Linked DNA regions of Homo sapiens: region 1 is linked to region 2. The links come from fine-mapping of genetic effects on gene expression. Tissue or cell type: whole blood. Region 2 holds a variant in brackets; the other region holds the start of a gene. All regions are shown on one strand. Distances are from middle to middle.

Evidence for each region. PIP is the estimated chance that this variant, and not a neighbour inherited with it, causes the effect.
Region 1: LXN starts here. The variant in region 2 is fine-mapped to the expression of LXN in whole blood (TOPMed, PIP 0.99).

What each region holds. Positions count from the first base shown.
Region 1 is chr3:158,671,167-158,673,666 of GRCh38, forward strand. LXN (latexin) reads right to left here and starts at 1,482. Exons shown (of 6, transcript NM_020169.4): 1 at 1,184-1,482. The coding sequence starts at 1,312. All of the region lies in intron 13 of GFM1 (G elongation factor mitochondrial 1), which reads left to right. RefSeq lists enhancers at 699-1,291, 806-865, 1,292-1,884, 1,306-1,355, 1,666-1,855.
Region 2 is chr3:158,024,904-158,027,667 of GRCh38, forward strand. No RefSeq gene overlaps it. Among named protein-coding and RNA genes, the nearest start is that of SHOX2, 80 kb to the right of the region's middle. The variant G/C (reference allele first, on the strand shown) is at 1,606.

The sequences.
Region 1 (2,500 bases), 650 kb after region 2:
GAATGTAACATCTAATTTAGCAAGTCCCCTATCAAGTTTATTTTGGATGAAAACAAAAGAGTAGGATAAAAGCATACAAATTGGGCACAATTCACTTTCAATCATCAAAAGACTTTATTTAACCCCTGGATCTGTGATCTTAAAGTCTCTACATAAGAAAGTTTGAAACAGCGTTTAATTCTAAAGATGACAATATCACCTTTGAAAAGATTTTTTCATAAAGCTCAGTGTACCCTCCAAATAATGTTCAATGAATGTGAATTTCATTTTGAGGCAGATTACTGCAAAGCAATTGGAGACTTAATACAATTAAGTATTGTTTTTACTTATACATTAGTGAAACTGCAAAATGATTAACAAATTATATAAGACTAAGAAATGGTATTTCACTTTTAAATCAAGATACAGATTGAAAATTTATACCTAATTCTGTTATCTGGTACAGTTTCAAAATAAGATCTACTGTGTCACCTCTAAAAGACTGTTAGCAGTTAAAATTCTGTCAGATAAATAAGGGATAATCTCAAATCCAGTAGATTTTCGTAAAATGAAAACAAACCTCGTTAGTGATTGCTGAGGCCTTAAACATTTAATTCAAGCCTTTAGCAGAGGGTGCACATCATTTAAGGCAGTCATGTGGTAGCGGTGTTTGGGTGGCTAAAGGCCAGCGTCAGCCCACAGTGCTTTTATTCTTTGACTTTGATTGTCAGTTTCTCTTGCTGTTTGTTTCCCCCTTCATTTTGGTCAAAGGGTCTGATAAGGATTTGTCTTAAAATGTAGGCAATAGAGTCTTGGAAGATGGGAGCTTTTGTTGGTCCAGATCAGAGTAGCAGATGAGAAACGTGGCAGCCTTAGTAGTCTTTTGAATGGTTTCTACAGTTTACACTTAAGGAAAGTGCTGCCCCTTACCTAGAGCGTGTTCCCGTTTTCTTGTAACTGTGTGCGTAAAAACTTTGTCTCTGCCTTAAGGTGAAAACAGTCCCGGGCTGTCTCCAGAGACTGGAGTATAGACATTCCCCCAGAAACCTTAATATCTCAAGACCAGATACCAGCAGTGTGTCCTAAAACAGAAGGTGGGTAGGGGGTGGCACGGAGTGTCTGCACCCAAAGGCTGAGACCGCGGGTGAGTGGAGGGAGCGCAATCCTGAAGCCTCTGCTGTCCACCACCCCCTGCTAAACTCACCTCCATGCTGGCTTGTTTGACCTTCTGCACCTCAAACACCCTGTGCGGGGTCCCCTGCTGGTAGTTGATGTAGTTCTGTGCCACCAAGGCCGCCCTGGAGGCTGGGTAGTTGGTCGGCGGGATTTCCATTCCGGATGAGCAGTGACTTCAGGGCTTGGGCTACTCTGGCTTAACGGGACCAGTAGCAGAGCGCCGCCCGTCCTGCTTGCTGCTGGGTCCGGTTGCCGAGGCGGAAAAGTCGCAAGCTCCTTCAGTCAGTCTTCTTCCTCAGCTCCTTCCGACTCCGGAAGCTGCTGTTTGGGCCCAGGCTCCCTGCATCCGAGAGCCCTGGGCTGACTGCTTCTGAGGCCCCGCCCCACTACTGCCTGCAGCGGGCTTCCTTACTCCGCCTGCTGGTTCCTACTGGAGGAGAGGCCAGCATGCTTGTCAGGCACCAGCAGGTGGAGGTGTGGGGAGGGAGTCAGTGGGCTAGGTTCGCTGGGATTGCATCTTTCGTTTCATTAACCTTTATAGAAGTGCAGGGTGGGGCTTTCGCTGATATAGGACATCTCTGAAGACTCTAGTTTCCTGTCCATGGGAAAAAAGTCTGGTTGCTTCGCTTGCATACTGGAGCACAACTTCCTTATACACCGCATGCAGCGTCCCTGGCAGGGCAAGGTACACAGTACTCCAGGTAGTGATTCGATTCCTTCATTTCCCTTCCCCTTATGAGAGTCCAGGAAGAGGCTTGCTCATCCTCAGCTTTTTGTGGGTTTGGACCAGTTCTGCCCAAATCAAAGTATGAGAATCTGCAAACTATAGTATTAAATTGGGAGATTATGTAATTTGGATCAGGAGAAATAAAAAAATGCACCTGTACCCCTCTCCTTTACTAATCTTAAAATGATAAGTTTTGATGTAACGCCATGCTTCCAACTTGAGTCATTTTGAATATTTTACTTCAAGGATTAAAATAAACTTAAAAACTGAACTTATACAAAGCACTCTCTCTGGTATGTGGTCTACCTCATTGCAATGGGCCTATAAACCTGACTTTGTAGAAGTACAGGTTTATCCTTGGTGGTCTTAGGTTAATTGGGCTAGGATAACTTGGAGATTCTACCAAAGTTTGGCCAAGGTCTTCGCTGCCTGGATTGAGACCTTTTTTTCTTTTCTTTTCTTTTTTTTTTTTTTTTTTTTGAGATGGAATTTCACTCTTGTTGCCTAGGCTGGAGTGCAATGGTGCTATCTCGGCTCACTGCAACGTCCGCCTCCTGGGTTCAAGCAGTTCTCCTGCCTCAGCCTCCAGAGTAGCTGGGATTACAGGTGCCCACCACA
Region 2 (2,764 bases):
CAAAAGAAGACATTTATGCAGCCAAAAAACACATGAAGAAATGCTCATCATCACTGGCCATCAGAGAAATGCAAATCAAAACCACTATGAGATATCATCTCACACCAGTTAGAATGGCAATCATTAAAAAGTCAGGACACAACAGGTTCTGGAGAGGATGTGGAGAAATAGGAACACTTTTACACTCTTGGTGGGACTGTAAACTAGTTCAACCATTGTGGAAGTCAGTGTGGCGATTCCTCAGGGATCTAGAACTAGAAATACCATTTGACCCAGCCATCCCATTGCTGGGTATATACCCAAAGGACTATAAATCATGCTGCTATAAAGACACATGCACACGTATGTTTATTGCGGCACTATTCACAATAGCAAAGACTTGGAACCAACCCAAATGTCCAACAATGACAGACTGGATTAAGAAAATGTGGCACATATACACCATGGAATACTATGCAGCCATAAAAAATGATGAGTTCATGTCCTTTGTAGGGACATGGATGAAATTGGAAACCATCATTCTCAGTAAACTATCGCAAGAACAAAAAACCAAACACCGCATATTCTCACTCATAGGTGGGAATTGAACAATGACATCACATGGACACAGGAAGGGGAATATCACACTCTGGGGACTGTGGTGGGGTGGGGGGAGGGGGGAGGGATAGCATTGGGAGATATACCTAATGCTAGATGACACGTTAGTGGGTGCAGCGCACCAGCATGGCACATGTATACATATGTAACTAACTTGCACAATGTGCACATGTACCCTAAAACTTAGAGTATAATAAAAAAAAATAATAATTAAAAAAAAAAAAAAAAGCTTTTGGCTATTCTCTGTCTCCTCTGCCCTTCTCACACCCCCCTCCTAAAACAACTTAATCAGGAGCAAAATATATATTTTAATAAATACATACACATATATGTAATTTGCTCATGCAGAGTAATTTGTCTCCCTCCAGTCCCTCAATAACAAAGTTCCTTTGGAGCAACCAAAATCTGGAACTTTGATATCATCATTGTAGAATCCCTGATGAAGTTGTTAAACAAAGTGTGTCTCTTCCTCCATTTCTGGCATGAATGTTGTGTGGTGAAATGGGAGGTTCTATTTATATAATAGGTACCCAGATAAGGTAATAACTTAAGGTATTATTATCAACTACTCTATTTGAGTTCTCACCTTGAGTCTATTACCAAACTGTATCATTCCTGCATACAAACTACCTCTCAGAATTACACTCTTGCTTTCCAATTCCCTGGACATTTCCTGGAACTATGTCGGCAGTACCTGGATTATCAACACCCTTCATAGATGCCATTGTCTCCCTACCCAAACCAGAAACTGCTGCTGAAATAACTTTGACAAATATTTGTTTTATAATCTCATTCTTTAGTTTAAAGATACAAAAGCTCCCTATTGCCAAAGAGATTTTTTAAATGTAAGCTAACATACATCTGGCCATTTATGTAATCAACTCCATCCTTTCTTGCTTTCCTGTACAAATCTACCTCTGGCCAAGTAAATCTATTTCCAAACTCCAATCAGCATGATTTATGTAGCCTCACAAGCATTTCTGTTTTTAGCTGCATGCCAGCTCCACT[G/C]CCTGAAATATTCCTTCTCCTTTCTTCATCAATGAATATTCACTGGCACTTCAAAAACAAGGTCAAATTTTCTCTTCTCTTCTACAGGATGTGCTCCTTGACCTATGCCTCCTGACTGACACCACTGCTCTACCCTCAGCCGCTTTATCAATTAAGGGCTCTGTTATCCATGAGCTTACATCTAGCCAAAATAACTTACATTAGCTGAGCACTTACTGTGTACTAAGCACTTTGCATGAGCGTTAGCTCATTTAATCCTCACCAAAAAAAAAAAAATTAACATGTGTACTCTTTTCCCCATTAAACAGATGAGAAAATTGATGCTTAAAGAGCTTAAACACTTGTCCAGAACCACATAGCTACAGCATGGCAGAACAAGATTTTGAACCTGGACTGTCTGGGTTCATCACTTGTACTCTAACGACTATAACATAAAACTGGTACAACAATTGTGTTATTCAATACATAGAGTCATTTATGTTTTTCTAGTCTGTTAATCCATCCAGACCAGGAACTTCTGAAAGTAATGGATGGCTCCTTCTACCATAATTATTTATAATCCTTGTCTCTTTTTCTTTGGATATTTTAATTTAAAATGGGGGAGGGCAATCATAATGGAATGACATAATGATATCTGTTCCTCTCATAAGTGAAACTTGTTTGCCTCCACAGTCCCTCAATCAGTACCAGTTATCCTCTAGGTAAGCTGATTTTAAGAGTTATCAGTTATCACTTAAGAGTAATAGATGTAGGCCTAAAATTGCTACAAGGGGGATCATTATACTCCTGAAGCCCTCATCTGGCAGAATTGTTTAAAATTCTGGAAAATCAAATTCTTTCCAGACCACATAGGAATATGATCTGCTCTTTTTTCTTACTCTCAAGGAATCTAAAAAAAATAAGAAATGTAGCATTTCTGTGAAATCTGTTTTTCTTCCAGAAAAACAAACCAAAGAAAATATATATTTCTAAACTAGACTATGTAAAAATCCGTGTTTGTTTGCAGAAGTCCCAAGAGGAAATAATTTATCCTTTTGCAGACTAACTTAAGTGTACCTAATAACCTTCTTTTAAAAAAAAATAATTTTATTGTGTATATTTTAGATTTACAACATGATGTTATGGGATACATATAGATAGTAAAATGGTTATTATGGTG